7 linked regions of the Homo sapiens genome follow. The protein of the gene in region 2 purifies or fractionates together with the protein of the main gene of each other region. This does not show direct contact. Each region holds a gene or a part of one and is shown on either strand. Other genes may lie near its edges. The genes, in order: ATP13A3, SLC35F1, FBXO11, DRAM2, ITPR3, MSMO1 and LAPTM4A.

Evidence for each region.
Region 1: the proteins of SLC35F1 (region 2) and ATP13A3 purify together in Homo sapiens (affinity purification with mass spectrometry; one large-scale study listed by BioGRID and IntAct). This does not show direct contact.
Region 3: the proteins of SLC35F1 (region 2) and FBXO11 purify together in Homo sapiens (affinity purification with mass spectrometry; one large-scale study listed by BioGRID and IntAct). This does not show direct contact.
Region 4: the proteins of SLC35F1 (region 2) and DRAM2 purify together in Homo sapiens (affinity purification with mass spectrometry; one large-scale study listed by BioGRID and IntAct). This does not show direct contact.
Region 5: the proteins of SLC35F1 (region 2) and ITPR3 purify together in Homo sapiens (affinity purification with mass spectrometry; one large-scale study listed by BioGRID and IntAct). This does not show direct contact.
Region 6: the proteins of SLC35F1 (region 2) and MSMO1 purify together in Homo sapiens (affinity purification with mass spectrometry; one large-scale study listed by BioGRID and IntAct). This does not show direct contact.
Region 7: the proteins of SLC35F1 (region 2) and LAPTM4A purify together in Homo sapiens (affinity purification with mass spectrometry; one large-scale study listed by BioGRID and IntAct). This does not show direct contact.

What each region holds. Positions count from the first base shown.
Region 1 is NC_000003.12:194,479,809-194,484,508, forward strand, and holds part of ATP13A3 (polyamine-transporting ATPase 13A3), read right to left. Parts: intron 3,291-4,700; exon of another isoform or gene 3,174-3,290; intron 1-3,173. UniProt on the Homo sapiens protein: ATP-driven pump involved in endocytosis-dependent polyamine transport. Uses ATP as an energy source to transfer polyamine precursor putrescine from the endosomal compartment to the cytosol.
Region 2 is NC_000006.12:117,909,809-117,914,508, reverse strand, and holds part of SLC35F1 (solute carrier family 35 member F1), read right to left. Parts: intron 1-4,700. UniProt on the Homo sapiens protein: Putative solute transporter.
Region 3 is NC_000002.12:47,836,441-47,841,140, reverse strand, and holds part of FBXO11 (F-box only protein 11), read left to right. Parts: intron 1-1,371; coding exon 1,372-1,499; intron 1,500-1,640; coding exon 1,641-1,722; intron 1,723-2,137; coding exon 2,138-2,282; intron 2,283-4,700. UniProt on the Homo sapiens protein: Substrate recognition component of a SCF (SKP1-CUL1-F-box protein) E3 ubiquitin-protein ligase complex which mediates the ubiquitination and subsequent proteasomal degradation of target proteins, such as DTL/CDT2, BCL6, SNAI1 and PRDM1/BLIMP1.
Region 4 is NC_000001.11:111,116,663-111,119,878, forward strand, and holds the end of DRAM2 (DNA damage-regulated autophagy modulator protein 2), read right to left. Parts: coding exon 3,215-3,216; intron 2,236-3,214; coding exon 2,143-2,235; intron 1,606-2,142; coding exon 1,498-1,605; 3' UTR 501-1,497; downstream 1-500. UniProt on the Homo sapiens protein: Plays a role in the initiation of autophagy. In the retina, might be involved in the process of photoreceptor cells renewal and recycling to preserve visual function. Induces apoptotic cell death when coexpressed with DRAM1.
Region 5 is NC_000006.12:33,624,322-33,627,909, reverse strand, and holds part of ITPR3 (inositol 1,4,5-trisphosphate-gated calcium channel ITPR3), read right to left. Parts: exon of another isoform or gene 3,520-3,588; intron 1-3,519.
Region 6 is NC_000004.12:165,337,181-165,341,378, reverse strand, and holds part of MSMO1 (methylsterol monooxygenase 1), read right to left. Parts: intron 3,591-4,198; coding exon 3,442-3,590; intron 2,728-3,441; coding exon 2,601-2,727; intron 1,159-2,600; coding exon 1,004-1,158; intron 1-1,003. UniProt on the Homo sapiens protein: Catalyzes the three-step monooxygenation required for the demethylation of 4,4-dimethyl and 4alpha-methylsterols, which can be subsequently metabolized to cholesterol.
Region 7 is NC_000002.12:20,037,575-20,042,274, forward strand, and holds part of LAPTM4A (lysosomal-associated transmembrane protein 4A), read right to left. Parts: intron 3,438-4,700; coding exon 3,317-3,437; intron 41-3,316; coding exon 1-40. UniProt on the Homo sapiens protein: May function in the transport of nucleosides and/or nucleoside derivatives between the cytosol and the lumen of an intracellular membrane-bound compartment.

The sequences.
Region 1 (4,700 bases), on a different chromosome or scaffold from region 2:
TCAGAGACAGAGACATTGGGTAACAGTAACAAGATGGGAGAGAAAACAGACTGCAAACACACCAGAGACACAAAGAGAAAAACTAAAATATACATAAAATGTATATCGGAGATACATGAGGTTAACATCTTGAGCTTTTGAGGATGTTGCTACTAAAGATACAAAATCATAGATTGTTTTGGACATAAAAAGCCTGAATATAACATTATTGCCTGCTGTTCCAGTTAACAAAAAAACAAAGAGCAATCATCAATCACACCCCACACACACATCTGACTTGTTTTGAATATCTTCAATGTTACTAAGTTAACAAATAATAAGTTACCCTTCACTCAGACTCTTATCCTTACAATTCTCTAAGGTACCCTTTATCACCTCTATCTGGCAAATAAAAAAGCTCTCAGAGGTTCAGTGACTTACTTAACCCAGACTACAAGACTGGTATGTGACAGAGCTGTAATTCAAAATCACTATGGCTCTGAAGCCCACATTTTTATCCAATACACCATGCCCTCTCCCAGGACATAAGACTGTTAAGTTTTTAGCCACCATCATGTTTTTACATACTCATGTTTTCTTACTGTGCTATCCCCAGAGTAATACTTAAGTTTAGATACTTTAAATTTCATGGAATCCATTAATAATTTACATCGCTCTTTTAAAACAATGCAGATCTTGCTAGCAGTAAGGAATAAATTTATTCTTTAAAAAAACAAAACAAAAACACTCAAAGTAGTTGAGTATCCCCTCAGAATGACAGACAGTACCAATAATCTCCTAATATTCTCAACTTTATTACCTAGCCTTTTAATTATACTAGATCTTTTTGTGGCATAACCTTACGGAGATAGCAGATGTTCATAAATACCTAAGTTATTTCTCCATTATTCACACTGTGGAGTCACATCATATATGCACTTAATTAAAACCAATTCAACTACTTACACTCTGGGGGGAAGCAACAGAGAAAAATAATTTGAATAATGATGATAGTATGCCTTCCTTTACATCCCTGTCCCAGAGTGAGCATGAAATGAAGACTATAAATCCGCTATGCTCAGTCAATCTAAGACCCATTCACCTGTCAAAACGGTCTCACACAGCTGGTGAGGATTCCAGCTCACCAAAAAAGGGACCTCTCTAAAACTACAGGAAAAACTGGACACTAGAATTGAAAGACAGAATGTCAGTTTCCAACCAGTTTTCAAACTGGTGCCTTTTTAAAAGACTTTTTCCAAGGGTAATTTTGACTACACAGGATTTTTATCTGAGAATTTAGGCCCAAAGGCCCCATGAGCAGTGATTGCACTTTATTCAGCTCTTTAGATCAATCAGAAAAAAATCAGGACCCAAAACACTTGTCTTTTATATCAAAATAAATAACTAAAATATATTTCATCCTATTTCACAAATGGAAAAAAAAAAAAACAGAGCAACAGGGATGCTATGAAGAAACCACCCTTAGACACATATGTGGGAGCAATTCCATGACTCATTTTAAACAAACTAAAAATAGTTTGTTTCAAGAAGTCTGTCAAGCAAGCAAAGGCAACCCTTAAAAGTTGGCTCTCACTGGAAAAAAAAAATGCAAAAGTTTTGAGATGTGCCATTACTACAGAGTACAAAATTAAAGCAAGGGTGAAAGGAACACCCAAGCTAGAGAAAGGATCTGGGGTTAGACCATAAAGGATCCTTTATGCTGTCACTTACTTCACTTTCCTCTTCTCTAAAAAGGCACTAATCTAAATAATCCATGATCTCTCCGCATTATTTTCCAGTCTCACACCTCTTTATTTCAATGTTCAACTCCTTTGTGAAAAAAAAATAAGAAAAACTCACTGAGCTAGAACCATCTTTCACCTTACCACCCAACATCAGTTACAAGTATTTTTACTTCAAACTTGAGAAAGATTCTGTAGACATCAGCAATTTCCAGACCACATAATTAGGAAATTCTACTTTACATACTTAAGTGACTTTTTCTGGAAATTTAATTTCTTATCTAACTAGTCTCTGAGTGTCAATTGATCATTTAAAACCAAGATCCACAGGGAGTAAGTGTAAGAATCAACAAAAAAGACAAAATTCTGATTAACAGATTAATTTTGCGGTCTTGACGTTTACTATTCGAGTTAATGTTTTACCATCTCAGACTCTAGCAAAGGTTCCAATATGACCCTGTGGGTCTAAGATGTTAACAGATATGGTATTGGCATAGTTCCCTCTAGAGAATCATTTTATGGAAACTTTTCAGCAATCACCATCCTCAAACAACCTTCCTCAGTGTCAGACACTTATTTGGACAGTTCTCTCCTTTATTCCGTTTTTCTCCCTTCTTACTGATTACCATAAAGTCATTTTTTAAACTATCATAACAGTGATCATTTTTTCCAATTACCATTTACTCATGTCATCTCATTTTACCTCTATTTTTAACCTGATTAATACAAATTATTTTTGGTTGTTTTAAGACAAAGTCTTGCTTTGTCACTCAGGCTGGTCTCAAACTCCTGGCCTCAAGCCATCCTCCTGCCTTGGCCTCCCAAAGCACTGGGATTTCAAGCATGAGTCACTGTGCATAACCTACTAACACAAATCGTTTTAACTCCTTTTATAATCACTAGTTATCTAGTGATAACTGATTAACTGTGGACCTTCTTCTACCTTACAAATATCTACTTTTCTCCAGATTAATTTGAGCCCAGAACTTTTTCATTTTTTTAAACCTAAATCTTAATTAAAATTATGTGCCAGAAATCTGAGCCTCTCTTACTTCTCTACTCTCAAAATATGATGTTCAACAAAACTCAAACGAGAACCTAACAATTTCCTTGCTTCTTGCATGCTATTTGAACTTAAGTGGTTAATTAGAACATGGTTTTGGCTGGGCAAGGTGGCTCATGTCTGTAATTCCTACACTTTGGGAGGCTGAGGCAGGAGGATCACTTGAGGCCAGGAGTTCTGAGACAAGCCTGGGCAACAAACCGAGATACTCATCTCTACAAAAAAATTTTAAAGGCCGGGCGTGGTGGCTCACGCCTGTAATCCCAGCAGTCTGGAAGGCCGAGGCAGGCGGATCACAAGGTCAGGAGTTCAAGATCAGACTGGTCAACATGGTGAAACCCAGTCTCTACTAAAGATACAAAAAATTAGCCAGGCATGGTGGTGGGCACCTGTAATCCCAGCTACTCGGAAAGCTGAGGCAGGAGAATCGCTTGAACCCAGGAGGCGGAAGTTGCAGTGAGCGGAGATCGCGCCTCTGCACTCCAGCCAGGATGACAGTACAAGACTCCGTCTCAAAAAAAAAAAAAAAATTTTTTTTTAAATTAGCCAGACATGATGGCACACACCCGTTGTCCCAACTACCCTTGTTGCTGAGGCAGGAAGGTCGCCTGAGCCCAGGAACTCAAGGCTGCAGTGAGCCATGATCGTGCCACTACACTCTAGCCTGAGTGAGAGAGCGAGACTCTTTCTCTGGGGGGAAAAAAAAAGAAAAAAGGACGGGGTGCAGTGATAAATGCCTGTAACCCTAACACTTTGGGAGGCCAAGGCAGGCAGACTGCTTCAGTTCAGGAGTTTGAGACCAGCCTGGGCAACACGGTGAAAACCCACCTCTACAAAAAAAAAAAAAACTAGCTGGGTGTGATGGTGCACACCTGTGGTCCCAGCTACTCTGGAAGCTGAGGTGGGAGGACTGCTTGAGCCCAGAAGGTCAAGGCTGCAGTGAGCCATGACAGAGCCACTGCACTCCAGCCTGGGAGACAGAGCAAGACCCTATCTCAAAAAAACTCAACATGGTTTTGACGACTACAGATTTACTCTCTCCATAGGCCAATTAGCTTCATTTTCACAAAAACTATGTTCCAAAACCAAGGCTAAATCCCATCAGCTACCTCTTGGATCCAGATGAGATATGGCATATTCAGAATACATTCAGAGGTAACACCAAGAAGAAATTTAATTTCTAATTTCTTCTGGCTACTCCAGGCACACTGCCTATCGAGCAGCCCTGTTCTGCAAGAAGCAGTATTAAAAAATGTTTTTAAAACTTTAAAAAATAAGAAATGTGATTCTAAGGAGGGAGAGAGAAGGGAGAAAAGGATGAGTACAACATATCTAAGAGTTAAACTGAGCTATATTTGAATGGATGATAAATGGAATAGGAGTTGGCAGCTTATCACCTATCAAAGAAAACAGTCAAAACAGTTCACAGTTGTGTGCTAAAAGAAGGTGATCTAGTGTGTGACACCTATTAAGATGACATATCTGATTTATCACCAGAATCTGAGGTTCAGAGATGTTATGTTGCCTAGTCACATACAACTAACCTTATAAACCCAGAGACAGAAACCTCTGTGTTAAGCACATTAACACAGAGCTAGGTTTCTGTCTGTCTTCAAAGTCGCTTATACTGTAAGCTCCTTAACTTCTTTAATTTTTTTTTTAACAAAGAAGAATATTGTTACCTGAAAGTGTTGAGGATTAGTTGAGACCATATGTAAAGAAAGGAGCACTTTTCCTGGCACATAATGGTTTCTTTCCTTCTTCCATTCCATATATTGAATCAAACTATGCTTGTATAACGTGGTGGTTTTGTAACTACTGTGAATATGAGGTTTTAGAATATGAATATGCTTTATTCCTAAGATAAATAGTAATCTTAGGACATAGGCACTATATCATATTACTATGGATATACA
Region 2 (4,700 bases):
AATGTGAGGAGATCTATCTTATACGACAGACCAGAGTGCTTTGTGCTTTCTCAGACTCAGATATGATCACAAATTGTAGCCCTGTCACTCTAAATCTGTATATAATTAGTATGATTTGGTTTTAAAAATCTATTCAGTGTTTGTTCAGTTATAGTAGGTTTCTCTATTTTTTTAAATGGAATTTATTAGGAATTGGTGGCTTATAATCTCGGAACTTGCAAAACTATATTTAAGGGCTTTTTTTTTTTTAATCCTCAGAGAGTCACATAGTAAATATTCTTCAGACAAAGTTTAGAATTTAAATTAATAGAAACTCTCTCTATATATATACACACACATATACACGTGTGTGTATATATGTGGATAGACAGATAGATAGATAGATAGATAGATAGATAGATAGATAGATAGATAGATAGATAGGATTCTTTTGTTTTTGTTTTTGGGGGGATTTTTTTGAGATGGAGTTTCACTCTGTTGCCCAGGCTGGAATGCAGTGGCGTGATCTTGGCTCACTGCAACATCTGCCTCCTGGGTGCAAGTGGTTCTCGTGCCTCAGCCTCCTGAGTAGCTGGGACTATAAGCGCATACCACCACGCCCAGATAATTTTTGTATTTTTAGTAGAGATGGGGTTTCGCCATGTTGGCCAGGTTGGTCTCACACTCCTGACCTCAGATGACCCTCCCACCTTGGCCTCCCAAATGCTGGGATTACAGTTGTGAGCCACCGCCCCTGGCTGAAACAATATTTTTAAAACTTAAATTATAATATAATTCAAAAAATTATACTCATGTTGCCACTAACTAACTGAGTTGCCACTAACATTTTTTCTAAGAAAATACTTCCTAAAGAATATTTATTGTTATTGTTTTCTTTGACATTTCTTGTGAAATTCCTTCTTAACTATTGTACATTCAAGGATTCCCTGTATAATTCCAAAGTGTCAGAACAAGGTTAATACGCATTGCATATTGAACAGCTCATTTACATTATTCCAATATCTAGACACTGGGAAGCATTTATTTAGGCATTATGTGTAACAATTCAGATTATGAATTACAACGTTCATTCTAAATAGTGATACACATGTCAAGTTTCCCAGTTAGGTTTTGAGGTTTTGGCCCAAGAATAATGTTTCGTCACATGTGTGTATTCCATAAGAAGGCTCAGCATACAGTTACTGCTTAAGAATAAATGAATATAGACCTGTATATGTTCATGTTACCATTAAGAAACATGCCCAAAATTCATAGGTTTTTTCCATACATCTACTGAAGTTTGTCTTCCTAAGCATACTTCTTGAGAAGCATAATCAAGAATTAATGTGTCTGAACAATGTACAGGGCATGCTCATTGGCCTGAACGCAAATGAACAAGCAAGCTAAACTAAAATCTGGTGGTGGTACTTTCACATGCTCCATATTATTTTTATGAGAAATGGCAACTACATAATAAAACATCTCTTGCATTAAGTAACTTTAGAGCTATATGAGCGATATGAGCAGCAGCTCAATTGCCTATACCTTCTACATCTATAGATGTGTACAGTGAAAACAGACATCAGTTAAGATGCCCCTAAGACACTGAAGGATTTTGAGAAAGTAAAAGTTCAAAGAAAATCACACAAAGACAAGTATATTTTAATACACGTTAATTACCTGAAAACACATCATCTTTATCTGAGGTAATCCAAATATCCCTTTAATGTGAACATTAGTTTCTCCAAGCACTGGGCATAAATACAAGTATACTGGTATAATCATTTATTTTTATAATTTTGTCCTTTTAGTTAAAAACAAATGCACCCTTCAGACATCTTTTCTTTACTACTGATCTTAGAAAAGTCTGTTTTTAATCACACCACCCAGTTCCACTTGGAATATTTTATATTAATCAACCTCATTACTAGCTGATCTTCCTCTTTTCATTTTGACATGTTTTAGACGGAGCAGCTTGAGGAAGATTCTCACCATTAATTTCCTAACAAAAGCCTTCTCACTTGATCAGAAAGGATCATCTAAATTATATGTTTCCACCAACTGTATGGAATACCTAGAGTTCAGTCATATCCATTGGTTCATGATGTTCTGTCCACCTTATTTAATGACTCAGAAAGGCTATGTACACATATTGTCCCATTTTACATGGTAAGTTTCCTACTTGGACATTGATTTTATGTAGGCTTGCTTCAAACTCTTCTATGTATATCCTTAACGATCTTTGGTTTATATTCAAAAAGGTTTCAGAAATTTGAAAATAAATCTAAATATAAGTTGGAAATCAGTTCATTCTAAATCAAATGAATGGATGAGTCAGAATCAGTAGTGATTCCATTCTAATGATTAAACATTCCCGCCATAAGACTCAAAGAGGCAGAAACCCCTTTATAATTTGAGACAACCCACTGTATGTCTTAATGGGAAGAAAGTGTATCAAAACAAGAAATTCACAGATATTTCTGTTAACAACTGAAAATAATACTCATGTGGGAAAAGATAAAAGCACACATATGCAAAACACAAAACAAGCTATCACTCATTTCTCAAAAACATTTCATTAAGAAATCATTTAGAGTACAAAATCTTCAGGCACTTTAATATGTAGGTCAGTAGCTACTCCTGTATGTGTCTAAGAAATCTACCTGATCAGCAGTTTCTTTGAGAGGGTCATCAACTGTTGCCCTTGAAGTATTTTCTTTTCGTCATTTTCTGATTGCCTGTGGCAGGGTAATATATACTATACCATGCTAAGAAATAAGGGAAGGCCAGGCACAGTGGCTCATGTCTGCAATTGCAGCACTTTGGAAGGCCAAGGTGGGAGGGTGACTTGAGGCCTGGAGTTTGAGGCCAGCCTGGGAAACAGAACGAGACCTCGATTCTACTAAAAATTTAAAAATTTTTTAAAAATAGCCAGGCATGGTGGTGTGCACCTGTATTCCCAGCTACTTGGGAGGCTGAGGTGGGAGAATCACTTGAGCCCAGGAAGTCAAGGCTGCAATAAGTTGTGATCATGCCACTGCACTCCAGCCTGGGCAACAGACCAAGATCCTGCCAGAAGGATGGAAGGAAGGAAGGAAGGAAGGGAGGGAGGGAGGGAGGGAGGGAGGGGAGGGGAGGGGAGGGGAGGGAAATGTGAAGAAGACTTTGCCGTATTTTTTCCTTGTTTGAATCAATATATTGATTGGTTCACAATTTTGAATATTAAAGGAGTAGTAATTATTCCAGCATTTAAATTGTCATGTTTCTTGCATCCTTTTGCCAAAACAATTTTGAGTATACCAGGGGAAAAAATGTGATGTCCCATTAATTATTTTAAAAAATTATCTAGTGCCTCCTCTTTCACCAAGTCTTGAATATAATTACATTCTAATCTAACTGTTTCACAGAAAGGGAGTAGTCAACCAATGAAATACCCCAATTGTTGTGTACAAAATGCAGCAATCCAACTCGACAAGCCTTTAGAGTAAGGGGAGAGGCTATGGAGTATACTATGGAAATAAAATGATGCTGAATAATGTAAGGCAGATTTTATTAAGATAACACTATATTTCATTCTAAGCTTCTTGAGAGCAAGAAGTACCTTTAATTAATTATTGATGAGCAATTCTCTCTTTAACTCTCCCTGGGTAGACAGGATATAGATAGCGTATGTGTTTGCAGTTCTTCCTCTGGGTTGTCAGATAGCTGTTCCTGTAGACTGTGACCAATGGCAGGCAATTCGCCAGGCTTGGCTTGCTCACAGTCTAATATTTCTCGTCCCATTGCACCACTCTGTGTCTCAGCATTACCCCTTTGGCCCAGTGGGATGCTAGGAGCTGACAGTGGTACAGCCCCCATTTCAGTCACTGAAGAGACTAGCCCTACCAGCCCACAGCAATAGAATGCTGCTAACCATATATCTGCATGTCAAAAGTTGGAGGGATATTTTTTATATTGGCTCCCAGCTTCCCGATTTGGAACCACTTTCTGCTAGGAGCTAAGTTGCTGCATGCCAAGGGTAGAGGAAAGAAGACAAATGAAGACAATGAGTGGACAGGGCAATGTGGGTGAAGTATTCAGGAAGGAGGAAGAGGAAAAGAAGAAAGCAAAAAAGGAGAAAGTAAGCAGATGGTGAGTTCTTAGAAAATTGACAAAGATGCTTATGATTAGGCCCCAATGGGCCTGCCTGATATCCATTACTGACTAGTCCAACACATCATGAGGGTTCAAACCAGAGGGGAGCCACATCCAAGCACTCTGCAGAATCTCAAAAATTCACTCTCCCCCATACTCTCACTTTTACCTAGAGCCTAATCACTCTATAGCCACTATTAAGGCTCTCATTGACATAATTATGGCACAAAAGCCAAGCCCATCAGCATGCTAAATAAATTATGCCATTGAGATTTTAAAACTTGCTCAGATTTTTCAGTCTCCTTACTAAAAATGTTCTTTCTTGAAACAAAGAGTTTCTTCTTATCCTTTAAGGATAAGGAAAAGCCAGTTACTCAATACAAAATATTATATTGAAAATTTTGAATAACTTTGAAAGACAAATAAATAAATAATTGTTTTAGCTTAAGTCTAAAGGCTACAAACCTAGGGTTCCATTCACGGTTGTATACCTGCGATGAAATGCCGTCAACCCAACATAAGTATAAGTTCCTCCTCTATACACTGGGACTAGTACAACTCATGTCACAGATCGTTTCATTAGAAAC
Region 3 (4,700 bases), on a different chromosome or scaffold from region 2:
CTGCAAGCTCTGCCTCCCGGGTTCACACCATTCTCCTGCCTCAGCCTCCTGAGTAGCTGGGACTACGGGCGCCCGCTACCACACCAGGCTAATTTTTTGTAGTTTTAGTAGAGATGGGGTTTCACTGTGTTTTCCAGGATGGTCTCGATCTCCTGACCTCGTGATCCGCCCACCTTGGCCTCCCAAAGTGCTGGGATTACAGGCTTGAGCCACTGTGTTATTTACAAGTTTTCAACATGATGGGTTGGTTTCCACTAGCATCTTTCAAATAATCTTTTTTTTTTTTTAATTTTTAAAGTATTATTATGAACTCATAGATGGATGGATTGACTGACTGATTTTGAGACAGGGTCTTGCTCTGTCACCCAGGCTGGAGTGCAGATGTGTGATCATAGCTCACTGCAGCCGTGCTCTGTTGAAAGCACTTTGGAGGCCAAGGTGGGAGGATTGCTAGAACCCAGGAGTCTGAGACCAGCCTGGGCAATATAGTGAGACCCCATCTCACCAAAAAAAATTGTTTTTTAGTTAGCTGGGTGGTGGTGCATGCCTGTAGCCCCAGCTGCTTGGGATACTGAGGCAGGAGGATTGCTTGAGGCCAAGAGGTTGAGGCTGCAGTGAGCTGTGATCGGGCCACTGCACTCCAGCCTGGGTGACAGAATGAGACCCTATCTCCAAAAAAAAAAAAAAAAGATGTTCATACACCAGACTACCCTCTGACACCCTTTTTAACCTACCTGGTATCTCATGCACTATATTGAGCCGTTCCTCTTCATAGACACACTCCTTGCCAAGCTGCCTTCACCATATATGGTCTCTAACCATGTAGTACCAGTTCCCTTCCCACTCCTCTCAGCAAGTGGATATCCTCCTCACCTTTTTTTAAAAAAAAGTCTTCCACGGCTGGGCGTGGTGGCTCACGCCTGTAATCCCAGCACTTTGGGAGGCCGAGGTGAGTGGATCACGAGGTCAGGAGATCAAGACCATCCTGGCTACCACGATGAAACCCCATCTTTACTAAAAATACAAAAAATTAGCTGGGCGTGGTGGCGGGCGCCTGTAGTCCCAGCTACTCGGGAGGCTGAGGCAGGAGAAAGGCGTGAACCCAGGAGGCGGAGCTTGCAGTGAGCCGAGATTGCGCCACTGCACTCCAGCCTGGGCGACAGAGCGAGACTCTGTCTCAAAAAAAAAAAAAATCTTCCACATTTTATAGAAATCTAACATTTCTTTCATATAGCTATCCAGTTGGTTGGAATTTCATATAAAACTTACATCTGCTCCCTCCCGAATTTGAAGTTTTAAGAAAGTTTTCTGTATCCATAGAACTTTTTTTAAAAAGGGTATAATTTTTCTTATTGCTTTTGTTTATAACAGATGATGATGTGCCTGCAGATATGGTTGCAGAAGAATCAGGTCCTGGTGCACAAAATAGTCCATACCAACTTCGTAGAAAAACTCTTTTGCCGAAAAGAACAGCGTGTCCCACAAAGAACAGTATGGAGGTAACTTTAACTGTAGTTGCTTTTCTTTTTGTAATGAAAGAATTTTCAAGAAACAAAAAAGGGAATGTCATCCTTTTTTAGAAGTAATGATTATGGATGATAAGAATATTTGCTTTACTAGTTTCTGTTTTGTTTTTGAAGGGCGCCTCAACTTCAACTACAGAAAACTTTGGTCATCGTGCAAAACGTGCAAGAGTGTCTGGAAAATCACAAGATCTATCAGGTATTTCCTGTGGGAAAGTAACAAATAGGGTAAAATAATTTTTTTTAATTTTGCTTGATACCAAAAAATGAAAATTAAGTGTATTCGAGTATTACCTTTGGGATTCAGAAAGTGATTATTACAGAATAAACTTTAGAACCCTGACCTCTCCCTCTGACTTTTATTGTTGTATAAAAATGCTTTTTATGTATTTATTTTAACCATTTCTGAGATGGCACATAATACCTAAAAGAAGGAGTACTTTTGTTAGTTCAGGATAGAGATAAATATGTGTTACCCATGAAACCCACATGCTTATAAAATGACCATTATCCAAAAAAAAAAAGCTATTCATTAGATAAAATGAAAACTGTGTTCTTTAAATAATGAGAAAGTTATTGCTCGAATGATAGTTTATATGTTAATCTCTTTATAGCAGCACCTGCTGAACAGTATCTTCAGGAGAAACTGCCAGATGAAGTGGTTCTAAAAATCTTCTCTTACTTGCTGGAACAGGATCTTTGTAGAGCAGCTTGTGTATGTAAACGCTTCAGTGAACTTGCTAATGATCCAATTTTGTGGTAAGTAAAAACCTATTCCTTATTAACTTGAGATATGTTATTTGTTGCCCAAAATGCTAAACATGGTAGGAAAGTCGGTGCGGTGAGTTGGTAGTTACAATTAGTTGGAACAAAATTAAAATGCTTATCAATTCCAAGTTACAAATGGGGGCTGTCAGTCCAGGTGGTATTTATAAATCAGTAAATGAAGTCTTTTATCTGCTGTTTATCAGTTAATAGCAACTGATTGATTATGGGAAATGTTTTTCTTTTAGTAGCTTTTTAGAAACATAACAGTGTAATTTAAAATAGCTAATGAATTTTAAATCTGATAGATTAGAATGTAGGTTTTATATATCACTTTTGGAAAACAGTTGTATTCATGAATCTTTAAATAATTCATGCCCTTTGACCCAGTAATTACTGGGTCATGCCCTTTGACCCAGTAATTCTACTTCTGAAAAGTTTTTTTTGCTTTATGTACAGATTTTTCGTAACAGCCTAGTTAATAATGAGAAAAATTATAAATAATCTAAATATCCAGAATTAAGGGAATGAACTACATAAACTGTGTAATGTGTACTTGGAGAGTTGTGATATAACCACTAATAGTAATTTTTACAAAGAGATTTTCATTTGTTTTTTGAGAGACAGGGTCTTGCTCTGTCACCCAGGCTGGAGTGCAGTGTCACGCTCCTAGCTCACTGCAGCCTCAACCCTCTGGGCTCAAGCCATTCTCCCACCTCAGCCTCCTGAGTAGCTGGCACCACAGGCATGTGTCACCATGCCCAGCTAATTTTTTTTTTTTTTTTTTTTTTGAGACAAAGGGTCTCACTCTGTTACTCAGTCTGATCTTGAACTCCTGGGGTCAAGTGATCCTTCTACCTCGGCCGCCCAAAGTGCTGGGATTATAGGCATGAGCCATTGCACCCAGCCCAGGTTTTTAATAAGATGAAAAAAATGCTGTTATAAAAAGTGAAAAGAGGCCAGGTGTGGTGGCTCCTGCCTGTGGTCCCAGCTACTCCGGAGGCTGAGGCAGGAGGATCATTTGAGCCCAGGAAGTCAAGGCTGCAGAAAGCCGTGATCGTGCCACTGCACTGCAGCCTGGGCGGCAGACGGAGACCCTGTTTTTTAAAGAAAAGAACAGAGTACAAAATTGTATATGCTATATAATCACAACTATAATAAATGATCTGTAGATAAAATGAGTGGAAGCAAATATGGCAGACTGTTAATAGTTAATATATTGAAACTATAGTTCTTTACACTTCTTTGTTTTACAACGGTTATATGTATTACTTTTATGATGCACAAAAGGTGCACCATATATATATATGTTTTTGTTGTTGTTTTTGACGGAGTTTCGTTCTTGTTGCCCAGGCTAGAGTGCAGTGGCACAATCTTGACTCACTGCAACCTCTGCCTCCCGGGTTCAAGCAATTCTCCTGCCTCAGCCTCCTGAGTAGCTGGGATTACAGGCACCTCCCACCATGCCCAGCTATTTTTTGTATTTTTAGTAGAGACAGGGTTTCACCATGTTGGCTAGGCTGGTCTTGAACTCCTGACCTCAGGTGATCCTCCTGCCTGGGCCTCCCAAAGTGCTGGGATTACAGGCATGGGCCACTGTGCCCGGCCCACACCTTACATTTAAGAGAAAAATTACAAAGGAGAAATGAGAATGAAGAGCAGCAGAACAAAACAGCATTGCTCACTGTACCAGAAATGATAATAGTTAGCCATTACTCCAGTTTGAAGATTTCATTGTGCTTGATAGGATATAAATGGACTGAAGATATAGGACAAATTAAGTTCAAAGTATTTTTACTGAAAATTATCTTTTTAGGCTAGGCGAAGTGGCTCACGCCTATAATCCCAGCACTTTGGGAGGCTGAAGTGGGCAGATTACTTGAGCCCAGGAGTTTGAGACCAGCCTGGGCAACATACTGGGACCTCATTTCTACAAAAAAAAATCAAAAAATAAGACAAGAGGATCACTTGAACCTGGGAGGTTAAGGCTGCAATGAGCCATGATCACGCCTCTGCACTCCAGTGTGGGCAACGGGAGTGAGACTCTGTCTCAAAAAGAAAAAGAAAGAAAATTATCTTTTTAAGTGATAATCATGATGTTTTTACAGTAAGGATAACTTTTTTTCCCCTTCCTGAGTAAACAGTTTGTAAGGAAATTGAAACTTTTTGTTGTTCTGTGTGGACAAATTTTCATACGCAGTTACATTGTGAAAATTTTTGCAGGAAAACTAATTTTCGGCCAGGCATGGTGGCTCACGCCTGTAATCCCAGCACTTAGGGAGGCTGAGGTGGGTAAATCACTTGAGCTCCAGAGTTCGAGACCAGCCTGGGTAACATGTGCCTGTAGTTCCAGCTACTTGGGAGGCTGAGGTGGGAGGATCATTTGAGCCCAGGAGGCAGAGGTTGCAGTGA
Region 4 (3,216 bases), on a different chromosome or scaffold from region 2:
TTTTATGGTTTGTATCCAAATTATTTCTAGCAATGTCAGCATTTAGTCAATCAATGCTTATGGAAATGTCTCCCAGGTTTATTGCTGTTTAATATAGGCATAGTATTTTATTCCCTTTCTGTCTTATTAGTCCAGAAGACTTCAGAAATATTATTTACTGATTCTTGTATCTAGCAACTAATTTATAATTGAGGTCTCCATCACATAAGCATTATTCCTTGAATTGCTCCAACTGACAGTTTAAATGTTTTCTCCCCACCTTTTCTTCTGGCCAGGGAACCATCTCTTCTAAAAAGATAAAAACCTGATTAATCTTCTTCAAAGATTATTCTGCAAACCAGTTCATCACTGGGCACTTTCCAAATGAGCATTTTTTTCTTTTTAATTTCAGCAGGGATCTGTAAACTATTCTTTACCTGTACATACAGAGATCCAAGGAGAAACAATCCAATCATTTGCATACCCAGAAAAAATGAGAACACTGTTTTTGTAGATGCATGTATCACACTTATTTTGCATGTAGTTTAATTGGATTGCCAATTTTGTTCTTTAGAATTTGGGCTCTACAAAGGTTACATCCTATTAAAAAGGCTCAATATTTACCTGTTCAAGACTACTTTTACATGTAATTATAACTTGCCATAAATGAAAATCTAAGAAGCTCTTGAGTATGGTTATGACTTTTATTAATCATATCTGCTGTTATTCCCAAACTTCTCAATGTTACATGAATACTAACCCTTGTTTTATATAAAATATGACTAAAGTAAATTTACCTACAGGTGCCTCTCTCCTTCATTGGTGATTAAAATTTCACGCCAGAGACTAAACTTCATGAAACTACTGCAAGCATGTGTATGATAGACCAATTAGCTTAGTATCTGGCATTGTGGCCAGAAAAAAAAAAATCGTTACCTACAAAATCTCTTGGGCAACACTTAAGCCATGGAAGAGCCCACATGAATCCAGGTCTACTTTCCTTTACAGGTAGATTCCAGAACAACAACAAAAAATGTAAGACTACAAGAAATGATTTAATATGATAAAACTCCCATTTCAAAACCCAGTTCTAAAGGATTTACTGACTAATGCTGATTATTTAGTCATGGAAAATGTCTCTCATAAAAGTGCTCCTAACAAAACATGATCTACAATAATTTATAAAATGTGAAGGGTTGGGATGTGCAGACTGATTGGTGCACGTCAGGTTGTTTCTCTTAAATAAGGTATAAAAAACTATGATATCATAGTCTTTTGACTTTATTTTCTGAGATAAAAAAGTATAGGCATAGGTGTTTTTAATAGTCTTCTTGATGATATCCTTTAGAATAATCTATCAAATGGCTTCTTTCATGTTTCCTGATTATCAGCATTCATCAGTGTTACTGTCAGCCTTGATTAAGTGGTTGAAAATTTCAGAGAAGAATAAGCAACTTCTGTGAACCTTTCCCCAATCCCTGAGAATCATAATCATTACAGAAATATTTTATCCTTTCATCAAATATCTCTGGAAAGTAGCCGTGTTCGTTCATTGTTAATAGGGCAAGGTGCAGTGTCATAGAGGGTTAATCCATGTAAATTGGCTTCCACCCGTAAAGAAATTTTCTGGAACAGAAAAGAAAATTATATATAGAAGTTTGCTCCTTAAAGAGAGATCACTCCTTCAATATGTTCTATAGGCTACCTTGTGATTATGAATGTAAATCAATTCTAATGGTAGTGAGACAGCTGTTTTACTGTCAAAGGTATCCTCTTTGTACCAATTAAAATCTGGAAAAACCAAGCTTCTCAATTCATAAAGTTCCCTGTTTTTCTTTGGTTTCTACTAAGAATCAGTAAAACTAAATGTTGAGAATGACCTATGTAAAAGTACACAGAATCGATAACAAATTCTATGTAAGAATTTCTGAAATTTATTTTATAGCCCCATTTTCAAGGCTAAATCTTGCTAGCAATACACTACTTCTTTAAACACAGAAACAATTCACCTGAAAAGTTACATCACTTGTTTATGATACCAAATCACAAACAGTTAATTTTCAAAAAGGCGGGAGAGTTGCCTATGGAAAGTTCTCTTAGTCTACCTTCCTGGACTAAGAGAAGGAAGTCTGACTGAATAAATCTAATATTGTGCCTTCTTACCTGAAAATCACGAATGTAAGTCAGGAAAAAACCAAAGAAGGAAAATGACATAGACCATTCTGCTGCAGTAGTGATCATGTGAAGCACATAACCCTGAGTGATGGGAAAAAAAGAATAGTTTTGTGAAATTTCATTTAAACGATCTATATACTATGTTTCAAATAAAAAACACACAATTCTTATAAAATAATGGAGCTTCTGAAAATCAACCCTTGACTTACCAGGCATATAATATCTCTAGAATTAAAGAGCCAGCATTAGGAAATCCTCCTAAATGACACTCTATTTGTTTCACTGGGAGCGAATAAAATTTCCAATTAAATAGCTAAGATAGAACAGGATCATTTTTACTCTACAATCGAGAAATTACTATTGCCTTACCCAAAGCCATAAGATTCATAATATGCAACTAAGAAAAGTTTAACAATGCTCAGAATAAACTTAGTAAGTGCTGTGTTTACGATATTAAATAATATATGGGTTACAATTGGGAAAATCTAGTAAATTATTTCATTCATTCATTTTCACAAACATGCCCAATTTGGGGCTAATTCTTATATAAAACACCACCAAGTGGTTTGTGAAAACAGATGAACTCATTTTATTCTTTAGTATATGTTCCTCTTCCTCTATTCTCAGAGTCCCAGATGTTATATCTACATTCAGATATCCACTATATTGAATCCTAAATGCAGAGTCCATAATCAATTTCCAGATAACAAAAAGTGGGAGAAGATGTCTTTTCAATTCAGAAAACAAGTATTCAAAACATAAATGATCTCGGTTGGCTATATTATATACTATACCCACATTTAGGGGAGTCAATTTCTCAGAAAACTCTTCTGCCATCGCAATGCTCTTCATATTTTGACAATATCTACAGATCACAGGTGACAGGAGAATATGGAAGGTTCTACATAAACCCTACCATATCAAGAAAATAATTTTAATACAGAACTGATTATTCTACCAGAAGACTTTCATTGTTACTGATGAAATGAAAAACATATCAAGATCAATCAAAATAACCATCTTTAATATAAAACTAAGTTTATAGACTGTAAGTTCTTACTT
Region 5 (3,588 bases), about 84 Mb from region 2:
CTGGTTCTAGGCTGAGCCAACCCCGCGCCACCCCCTCTCCACTTCATCCCTTCTCCATCACATCCTCGCACTGCCTGGGAAGTGCCTAGTACCTAACCTTGAGGGCAGAGGCTGGTCTTACTCCCCACATGCTAGTGCAACACTCACACATGACATGAATCATGTCTGACCCTCTGTGGCACCAAGTTCTGTTCCTATACCCCTCCACCACCACAGAAACACAAAAAGTTAGACAGCCTAAGAGTTAAAGGTGTACCTTGTCTTTGATCTCCATTTCTGGGAACGTATTACCTGAGAGGATAACTATAACTAGACAAGTGTTCAGGCATGCATGCACTAGGATGTTCAGGGCAAATTGTTCTTAACAGCAAAAATTTACAAAGAGCCTGAATGTTGAATACTAGAGTTGCTTAAATAAATTAAGGTACAGCATACCATGGCTGTGCAGCCATAACAATGGTGTGTTGGCATGGGAAAATACAGCTCACTATATATATGCAAAAAAGGACAGGGTACAAAGCCATACGTGCAGTTTGATATTGTTTGTAAATGTTCATTTATGAATATAAAAGGCTAGAAGGTCATAGGGAATGTTCATGTAAGCCATAGTGGTATTACAGATCATTTTTTTGAGTTTTTCACATTTTCTCCATGGAATGTATATTTTTTTTTAATCTGAAAAAATATATATATTTTCAAAAAATGAGTTGCATGGATTAGGCTAAGACCAAGAATCTGCCTTGAGGTACAGAACAGAAGTCTAACATCTTCTTCCAATGAAATCACAATTAAATGAAAGCCAAGCCGGGTACAGTGGCTCATGCCTGTAATCCCAGCACTTTGGGAAGCCGAGGCAGGCAGATCACCTGAGGTCAGCAGTTCAAGACCAGCTTGACCAACATGGAGAAACCCCATCTCTACTAAAAATACAAAAAAATTAGCCGGGCGTGGTGGCACATGCCTGTAATCCCAGCTACTCGGGAGGCTGAGGCAGGAGAATCGCTTGAACCTGGGAGGCGAAGGTTGTGGTGAGCTGAGATTGTGCCATTGTACTCCAGCCTGGAAAACAAGAGCAAAACTCTCTCCAAAAAAATAAAAGAAAGAAAGCCAAGACAGGTCTGAAATCCACCCAGGGAATGCTATCAGCGAGGGAAAGGCAGTCCCCTGCTCCTGGAATTACATGTGTCTCAGACTTAAGGCTCAAAGGGCCCCACTGCACAGAACGGAACAAGCTGGACCTGTGCCTTGGGTACCACTGATTCTGCAGTGCCTAAAACAGTGCCTTGCCTAGCACATGGTAGATGCCTAATAAATGTTTGTTGAATGACATTATGAAGTCTGATGAGGGCAAAGAGATGGGCCTTCTGGGCTGAGGGGCAGGTAGACCTAGCAGGCAGGCTTCCTCACAGCCTGTCAGCCTGGGAGGGCCCCCAGATCAGGGATCCCGGCCCCAGGTACTCATTAAAACCACCTGGAGAACTTTTTAAAAATCTAACACCCAGACCTTAGCCCTAGAGATGGTGATTCAGTTGGTCTGGCATGGGACTTGGGAGCTGAAATTTTTTTTTTAATCCCCAGGTGATTCTCAGGTACAGCCAGAGCACCATAGAGGATAATGCAGGCTGACGGAAACTCACTCTGAGAAGGCAGGGCCTTGTTCAAAGCATCCAGCAACGGCCAGGCACGGCGGCTCATGCCTGTAATCCCAGCACTTTGGGAGGCAGAGGAGGGAGGATCACTTGAGCCCAGGAGTTTTAGATTAGCTTGGGCAGCAAGGGGAGACCCCATCTCTATAAAAAATACAAAAACTAGCCAGATGCGGTAGCACACGCCTGTAGTCCCAGCTACTCGGGCGGCTGAGTTGTAAGGATTGCTTGAGCCTGGGAGATTAAGGCTGCAGTGAACCCAGATCACACTACTGCATTCCAGCCTGGGTGACAAAGACCCCATTTCAAACAAAACAAAACAGAAACCACCCAACAAGTTGGTGATGGAACATGAGACAGACACCCTTCCTGAGAGCTATGCCTCTGAGGTTTCCGACCTAGGGATCCTGAGCCTGGAGACCTGGGGCTTCGTCTATATTCACCCCCATACTTCTTGGGTCCTGACCTCCAGGGAAGCAGGTCAGGCTGGCAGGTAGACAGAGAATCCCATGGGTAAGAGGCAGCATCTCCTACTCACTATGATTACCCAGCCCTGGGTGATCCAGGTCCAGAGGCCCTGAGAGCTCCAAATAGGCTCCAAGGCTGAGCCATGGGTGGGCAGAGGCACTTTGACAAATGTTGAAAGCTCAGCTCCAAGACCCAGTTCACCTGCACTCCCCCAGTTTACTTTCTGTGGGTCTGGGGCTACCTCTCTGGGTACTCATAAGAGATCTTCGCCAGGCACAGTGGCTCGCGGCTGTAATCCCAACACTTTGGGAGGCCGAGGCAGGCGGATCATCTGAGGTCGGGAGTTTGAGACCAGCCTGACCAACATGGAGAAACCCAGTCTCTACTAAAAATACAAAATTAGCTGGGTGTGGAGGCACATGCCTGTAATCCCAGCTACTCGGGAGGCTGAGGCAGAAGAATCGCTTGAACCCAGGAGGCTGAGGTTGCAGTGAACTAAGATCGCCCCATTGTACTCCAGCCTGGGCAACAAGAGTGAAACTCTGTCTCAAAAAAAAAAAAAGAGATCTTCAAGAGATGACTTGAGATCCTGATGGGTCCACCCTGTGTACCCAAGGCCAGTTCTCCCTAGCCACTGGCCTGAGGCCACATTCAATCCTCCACTTTTTGTTGGCCCTAATCAGCTACTCCATCCCTGGCCTCTGCTGCTCCCACCTAGGGTAAGGGATAAAGCAGTGGCATTGGCCTTGCTCTCCTGCCAAGAACAGGCGTGGGCCTGCTTTCCCTTGCTGGCCGGCTGGCAGTCTCAACCGCTCCTGGATCCACTACCCAGATCCCTCCCATCCTTCCCACCTAGAGTTAATGTACAATCTTCACTAGGACCTCTAATTCTCCAGGAGGCTCTAATTGGCCTCGTCCACTTTGCACTGAAGAGCTCTGGCCAGAATCTGAATGCTGCCTCTGCCTCCCTCCCCAACTAATGCCCCCTTCCCATCTCCCAGGTGACCTGGCCCATCTGCCCACCAAGGCCACCCCTGCCTTCAACACATTCATTTTTATCCAGCCCTTACTGGGTACCTCCTGGGGCCCACACACTGGGCACTGGGTTAGCCCAGGAATTCAGTCAAATCAGCCTATGGGTTCACAGACATGGGCACCAACAGCCTCGGGAAAAGCAGAGGGGACCAGAGTTCAGAAAGGAGGCAGAAGGATTCTGAGGAGGATGGGGCAGAGAGAAAATCACTCAGAGCAACGCTCCTCACACTTTAATGCACCAGTCCCCTGGGGATCTTAATAAAATGCAGATTCTCATTCAGTAGGACGGGCACGGGGTCTGAGATTCTGCATTTCTGACAAACTTCCTGGTGACGCTGAAGCTGCTGGACTGATTACTTACAGCACTTACAAATCATTCCTTCTTTGACTCTTAACTTCCAAGGAAGCAGGAAGCACAGCTCCCTTAATCACCACCAAG
Region 6 (4,198 bases), on a different chromosome or scaffold from region 2:
AAATATGTTTTTTAGGAAAAGTCACATAAAATTAGTATCAAGTATTAAAAAGGGCAGGCCCATGAATCCCTGTATAGCAACTTCATTTACTTTTTTAGGCAATGACAAGTTGGAATCAAATGTACCACAATTAATCAAAATACCAGTGTACTTTTCTATAGTTGGCAGAAGACAAATGGCTTCAAAAAAGAGTCCCATTTAAAGTATGCTCCTTTATTTCCAACTACATATCTACAATCAGACATCCAGTTATACTTATTTGAATCACTCTAACCCTCTCTTCCTTTGAGGAGCTTAGAGGAAGGAAGGCAGAAAGAAACAATGGATAGAAAAAAAAAAGAAAGAAATGTCAATTACAATTTTTCTACAGAAGAATATTCTCTGCCTAGGACTAGAAGCATTAATTTTGCTACTTTAGCACTTTAAAAATAATTCTTAGAATTTGATATTCTGCATTCATGAGTACAGAAGTATGTCCCAAGTCAAAATGCAATGAACATATAATTAAAAAATAATGAACAATTAGGATAAGCATTTAAGAAGGCATTCAATATAAATAATTTACCACAAAATGTCTTCCAATCAACAGAAAGGATGCATTTGAAATATGTATGTGTTACAAGTAGTAGTTTCATCTTGCAAGTGCCTTTATCAGTGCTGAACAGTAGAGATTAGAAAGTCTTATTCAAGGAAGGCTGAATGCTTTGATATTTTTTTCAAATATGAGTTAAGTTTAGGTTTATTACAGAAGGATAAGGAAATTGCTGGTCCTGAATATATACTTGCCCTAATAACACATTATCACTATAAAAATTATAACAGCATAGGCTAGAATGTAAAAACATCTATTATTTAAACTTTTATCCAACAGTTATGTTTTCTTAATATAACATTAAGAAGATTAACTTCTCCTATTAGTCTCCTTAGAAATATGATAATCTTATGGCCATGAAAATAAATATATTTCATTATGCTTTATACCTGAACAGAAATTAATACTCACCTATGGACATCAATAGTTTCTAATAAACGAATGGTCACCCATGCCCAAAGAAGAATTACATGATCACACAAAAGCACGATTCCAATGAAAAATCCAGTTCCAAGAATTAGAGTCTCCAAAGGATGTGCATATTCAGCTTCCATTCCAAATGGAGCCTAAGACAAACAGATAAGAAATTCTTAATTTCTTAGCTATTGTGATGGTCAATTTTATGTGTCAACTTGGCTAGGCTATGATATCCAACTGTTTGATTAAATACCAGTCTAGATGTTGTTGTGAAGGTATTTTTTAGATGTTGTTAACATTTAAATCAGTAGACTGAGTAAAGGTGATTACCCTTCATAATGAGGGTGGGCTTCATCCAATCATTTGAAGGCCTTCAGGATAAAAGGCTGAGGTTTCCTGAAGAAGGATTCTCGAGACTGCAACACTGAAACCCTGCCTGAGTTTCCAACTTGCTGCTCCATGGAATTTGGACCCAAGGCTGCAACAATTCTTACCTGGATTTCTAGTCTGTAGCCTGCTTTACAGATTTCAGACTTGACAGCCGCACACTTGCATGAGCTGATTCCTTAAAATAAATCTCTCTCTGCATATATATACCCCAATGATTCTGCTTCACTGGAGACTTCACTAATATATATATCCTATTTATGCATAAAGTTTTACAAAGTTATATTGATTCTATATGTAGTGATGATTTATCTAGTCATACACTTATAAATAATACTAGCAATTCTCAATAAAAATACCTTACTCCACATCAAAAGTCTAGGGATATAAAATCTTGCTGTCTTTGATGGTTTAAGATAAAGGCATTAAATAATTGACTTGAACTCTAATTTTGACTTAAGTATTTATATTTGTTCTTCTAATAAAGAGAGGCTTGATTTGGCACACCATGTAATCACGGTCAATGCAAAACATACTCACATAACCAGTTGACAAAGCTACATCAAAGCAATTCTAATTGGCCGGGCATGGTGGCTCACGCCTGTAATCCCAGCACTTTGCGAGTCCAAGGCGGGTGGATCACCTGAGGTCAGGAGTTCGAGACCAGCCTGACCAACATAGTGAAATCCTGTCTCTACTAAAAATACAAAATTAGCCACGCGTGGTGACGCATGCCTGTAATCCCAGCTACCTGAAAGGCTGAGGCAGGAGAATTGCTTGAACCCAGGAGGTGAAGGTTGCAGTGAGCTGAGATCATGCCATTGCAGTCCAGCCTGGGCAACAAGAGCAAAACTCTATCTCAAAAAAAAAAAAAAAAAAAAAAAAAGCAGTGCTCATAGAAGTTACTGTTTTTGTGGGAGTTAGCAATGTGAGGATCTAGCTGTGCCAGTGTAGCACTGTCCACAAGGATGGAAGTCCGAACTTTCATATAATATTTTTCTTTCAGATCTCAATTTACCATGAAATTTAAATAATGAAAACAATGTGTAGAAATGGCTTGTTTGTATGTGTGTGTATTGTTCTTAATAATCATGCCAAAGGAAAAGAAAATAAAAACGTCACCAACAATTTTAGAAAAATGCTCAGGCAATTAAAATAGACATTTTGCCTCTAACAGAAAGAATTAAATATAACTCTCACATACCTGAAACTCATGATGAACTTTATGAATATACTTGTATATTCTTTTGTGGTGTAAGAGTCTATGCAGAAAATAGTGCCAAGTATCTTCAATGACTGCACAACCAAAGCATCTTGCCAAAAGAAAATACCTTTAAGATAAAAATGTTGTAATGTGTAAGAAATAATTTTTACTTAAACTATCCAGACTTTTAGTTGGGATCACTGCTTGAGACATTACATAAAACCACCCACCCACTTACCAGGTTGACCTAATTGGATATATTCATAAATAAATTCTCAAAACCACCAGATACAGCTACATAACTTGATATAAGGTTAAAGAGACTGCCCATTAGACCAATTTCATTTCATTACAATGTTCACACAACTTGCCTCATGACACTTTTCTCAAGAGATATCCGTTAAGTGACGCATGAGTATATATATGTGTGTGTATATATATATGTGTGTATATATATATATATATATATATACACATACATATTTTTGTTCATGTAAACACAATTTCTATAAACCTCATAAATGATTCTCATATATTTCATTCATTTTAAAATTAAAATGTAATATATTTTTGTCAACATAAGCACTTATACATGTATATAAACATACAAAAGACGTTATGGAAACTTCTGATACTAGAAGCTCACCTTCCAATAAAATATTTAAAAGATGTAAAAATGGAAACATTTTAAGATTTTACTGTGGTTTACTTTTCTACTATTTATTTACTTCCAAAGTTTAGAACAAACATTAACTAAAATTAAGAAAACGGGTAAACATTAAGTATAACTTAACTGAATAAGCCACAATTGGGTGTAAAAGCCAAATTTTTATCTACGTACCATCTTGGCATTCTTTCCCAATCATAAGGAATATTGAAATACTCTGTAAAATAATAGGTTCCACAAATCAAAGGCAGCTGGATACAGAAGTGATTAAAGAGAAGAACTTTGAAACACTTCCATTGGTTTTCCCATGTCTCTGGCTTATCCTACGAAGAAAAATCACAATATCTAATATTAGTCTCTGCTATCAGAGTTTAACTTGACCTAATTTGTTCTCTGTTTATGTTGGACCTTAATTCTACGTCAGTTATGTTAACTTTATATAACTAAGACTCAGGAATCTTTGCCTTCTAAATTCTTGACAACTACTATCACTACTTCAGGTGAAGAAACTGTTAACAGATGCGCCTAGCCATGATGATCTCAAACAAACTAAGAAACACTATGGAATGAATAATTCTCCAGTCTTTGCTGCCACAGATCATTCACTTCACTTCTTTTACCAGAAGTTTCAGAGAAGAAGAAATATAATATGCTAAGATTACTGTTGGGTGTCCACAATTGAAGAAGTTGTATACGAAGCATTGGAAGCCTTTTACACAGTAAGTCGATGCTTCCAGGCACTCAGTGGTATTCATTCCAACAAATAAATGCACTTTTGTTCAAATCCAATGACAGAATTATAAACTCTCTGAGTTGAGAAGTACACAGATATGTCCTGATTATGGAGTTCACAGATTCAAGTCAAAATGAGAAAAGTTAGATCAACATGGGATGTTCGTTAAGACCTCATCAGGATACCCATTTGCTTAGC
Region 7 (4,700 bases), on a different chromosome or scaffold from region 2:
AACATAAGAACAGAGACGGCAAAAAGAACACAGGCATTATCTAAGAAAACAAAAACAAAAATCTAATTAAGCTACTTACACAACAAAAAGAACAAAACTTCACTTAAAGCTAGCTTTAAAATATTAAATTTAAATATTTTCAAAATTGGCTATAAAAAGATCTAAGGCCAAGAGGGTAAAAAAAAAAAAAAAAAATCAAAGTCTCAGCATGAAGTAAGGAACCTTGAGACATTCACACAAAGCACTTATTTGTTAAATCGCTCCAACGACTCACTGACATGGGTGTAGGATGGCACATGAACCACATTCTCTGCTAGAGAAACAGGTCCCTGTGCCCTTATGAGCCCAGGAATCTGAAGATGTGCAAACAGATCATTATAATCCAATGTGTCAAGTGCTACAACAGAGGCAGAAACAATTTGCTTTGCCTGAAGCATCAGGAAAAAATATGAAGAAATGACACAAGATGGGTCTTATGAGTAGGGTTTAGCTGGAAGGAATGGCTGGCAATTGCTTAAAAGACAAGTGTATTAAACTCAGAATGCTACATACATTACCCTTTGCTCTAGATAAATATAACCTGAAATTCAAATTTCGCCATTAACCTCACTTCCCCACCCAACCTCCCAAACACCAAAATTCATTGCTTCCTGCACCCTGGTATCTATGTTAACACACACTACTTTCTTCTTCGTTTCTCAACTCTTCCTCAGGTTGTTCCAACTCTCCATTAATCCATGTTCACTAATTTTTTCACAAAACAGCCAAGTAATCTCAAGCAATTCTAAACCGTGCCTGACTTACTGAATTTCTTAGCACAAATCTGTAGTTGATTCTGTGACTCTGGACAGTTTTTTCTTTCTTTTCCTGAGACAGAGTCTTGCTCTGTCGCCCAGGCTAGAGTGCAGTGGCGCGATCTCGGCTCACTGCAACCTCAACCTCCCAGGTTCATGTGATTCTCTTGCCTCAGCCTCCCAAGTAGCTGGAATTATAGGCAAGCACCACCACATCCAGCTAATTTCTGTATTTCTAGTAGAGACGAGGTTTCACCATGTTGGCCAGGCTGGTCTAAACTCCCAACATCAGGTGATCCGTCTGGGCAGAGATTAAGAAACTGGGGGGGATGGGCACGGCAACCCACACCTGTAATCTCAGTACTCTGAGAGACTAAGGTGGGAAAATTACTTGAGGCCAGGAGTTCAAGACCAACCTGGGCAATATAGCAAGACCCTGTATGCACAAAAGATGTTTTAAAAATGAAAAAAGAAAAAAAATACTGAGGGCACTAATAATGATGAATGACTAGAACAACTGCTGAATATTCCCTATTGGGTAAATGTATATACAACTTTTTTTTTTTCTTTGAGACAATCTCACTGTCACCCAGGCTGGAGTGCAGTGGCACAATCTCAGCTCACTGCAACCTCTGCCTCCCAGGTTCATGAGATTCTTTTGCCTCAGCCTCCAGAGTAGCTAGGATTGCAGGCCTGCGCCACCAAGCCCAGCTAATTTTTGTATTTTTAATAGAGACAGGATTTCACCATGTTAGCCAGGCTAGTCTCAAACTCCTGACCTCAAGTGATTCACCTGCCTCGGCCTCCCAAAGTGATGGGATTACAGGCATGAGCCACCATGCACAGCATGTATATATAATTTATCACTGGGCAGTAAAACCTCATCAATATTTGGCACTAAACTAGGAATAGTCCTCTTTACTTTTTTCTTAGAGGATACAGGATTGATAAATGTTAAGAATTTAAAGGACTTCCCTGCTACAACATGCAAACTTCCACTTAGAAGAATTCAGGTAAAAACAAAATATGAAATTAAACAGGTATTATCAAACTTGAAAGCAAAATTTGTAATTCAAATAATCGGCTTTCAAGAGTCTGCTATGGGCTGGGCACAGTGGCTCATGCCTGTAATCTCAGCACTTTGGGAGGCTGAAGTGGGAGGGTCCCTTGAAGCCGGGAGCTCAAGACCAGCCTGGTAAAGACAGGGAGACCCGATCTCCACAAAAATTTAGCTACTCAGGCAGCTGAGGTGGGAGGATCACTTGAGCTCAGGAATTCTGGGTTACAGTGAGCTATTACTGTACCACTGCACTCCAGTTGGGACAACAAAGTAAGACCTTTTCTCTAAAAAACTTTTTTTAAACAAATAAATAATATAAATGTGATTTTAAAAATGAAGGGCGCTGGCTGGGCGCTGTGGCACGCCTGTAATCCCAGCACTTTGGGAGGCTGAGGCGGGTGGATCACCTAAGGTCGGGAGTTCGAGACCAACCTGACCAACATGGAGTAACTCTAAAAATACAAAAAATTAGCCGGGTGTGGTGGTGTGTGCCTGTAATCCCAGCTACTCAGGAGGCTGAGGCAGGAGAATCGCTTGAACCCAGGAGGCAGAGGTTGCCCTGAGCCGAGATCGCACCACTGCACTCCAGCCTGGGCAACAAGCGCAAAACTCTGTCTCAAAAAAAAAGAAAGGCATTTATCCCATTCATAAGGGTAGAGCCCTCATGGCCTAATCACCACCCAAGGGTCCTACCTCTTAATATCATCACCTTGGAGGTTAAGCTCCAGCATGTGAATTTTGGAGGGACACATATATTGTAACCATAGCAACTTCTCCTTTCTACTAGTAGCTACATTAAAAAAAAAGTCTTATGAAGCCTGCATGCTTATTTTGATTTCAAGGTACATTTTACACATTTCTCAAAAACTTAATAGTCCATTACATTTTCTGGCTAGAAATGCTCTATTGTAATCCTCACTGAATCTCTCTGAAAAACCCATCAAAATACTTTCCTGCCTCAGCAAGAATGACTTAAATATAATTTAACTTGTTACCCTTATTATGTAACCATTTTAACTTTCTGAAATGTAACTTAAGCATAATCTAATCAATCCCCTAAATAACCAGTGTGTGTGGAGACAGACAGACATGGGCCAACAACATTTTGGTCAACAATGGACTGCATATATCATGAGGGTTCCATAACACTGTAATAGTGTATTTACAGTATTACTATATTTTTCCATCTTTAGATACACACCTATTTGCCACTGTATGATAACTGCCTACAGTATTCGGTACAGTAACCTGCTGTACAGGTTTTAGCCTAGGAGTCTCTACCACATCGCCTAGGTGTATAGTAGGCTACGCTATCTAGGTTTGTGTAAGTACACCCTATGATGTTCACACAACAATATCACCCAGTGACATTTCTCAGAATGTGTCCCCATCATTAAACAACACAGGACTGTATATAAAAATTAGCAGGGGAGATTTTTTTGTTTTTCTATTAAACACATACCAGCCATTCTCTCAGACGAATAGTAATTACCGATGACTTCATACTGAATGTTGACAGCTGGCATGGAGTTTGGATGAGTCACTTCCACAGTCAGCAAAATTGCCATCAATAGGTTTACTACCTGGAAAAGATAACATTCTATCAGTTACATTAATTACCATCACGACGCAATCTTAGCACAATCTCTAGATGTCCTCTCATATTTAAGATTGTCTTACTTGAAGTAACAAAGATATAAAATAGTGGGAGACTACCTGTGAGATAAAACAATACGCAATTACCACTATGAGAATAATTTAAAAATAAATATTTTATAAAGTATAAGTAATATTAACCATTTGAGAGATAAGATGCTTAACCAATACACCAGAAAAAAATTAAAACTAAAGAATCATTACAAATGGTTCATGTTCGAAGCTACCTATTTATTCATATACCAATCTCAGAATTTCTGGATTTGAAGAAGTTACTGTTCATCTGTTATATTTATTCATCAGATGCCCGAAACCCCTCCACAGCATCTCTCATCAGGTGACAGAGAACTCACTATTTCCTCTAGAGCTAGACTCAAATGCTTAAGAGACTTACCAAGATACTGAAAGTCACTTATCTACTAGTCTTACTTTTGTGTGTGTGTGTGTATGTGTATGTGTGCGTGTGTGTGATATGGAGTCTCACTCTATTGCCCAGGGTGGAGTGCAGTGGTGCAATCTCAGCTCACTGAAGCCTCCCCTTCCTAGGCTCATGTGATCCTCCCACCTCAGCCACCTGGTAGCTGGGATTACAGGTGCCCACGACCATACGCGGGTGATTTTTGTATTTTTAGTAGAGACGGGGTTTCACTATGTTGGCCAGGCTGGTCTCTAATTCCTGACCTCAAGTGATACACCCAGCCCTAGCCTCCCAAAGTGTTGGTATTACAGGCGTGAGCCACCACGCCCGGCCTTAAATCTACCTTTTGAGATAATGTGCTCTCCCTTCTAAATAAGTGCTCCAATACCTGAAAACAGCCTCCAAATACTGTGTTCTCTAGAATAGACATGCAGATCTTTAAGCCATTCCTCTGACTAGCATGTTTCCTAGCTACCTATTTCCCTTTTGTCTTCCTCTTTACACATGCTCCAGTTTGATGGACATATATTAAAATGAGGTAAAGTCACCCTGGTCAGAACATAATGGGATCTCAGTTCTCATATTCTGGCTAACGAATTTCAATTAATGCAACCTGAAGTTGTACTGAGGTTTTTTGTTTTTGTTAGAAACAAGGTCTCACCATATTGCCTAGGCTGGTCTTGAACTCTTGGCCTCAAGTGATCCTCCTGCTTTAGCCTCCCAACATGCTGTGATTACAGGCATGAGCCACCGCACCCAGCCTGCATTGGCT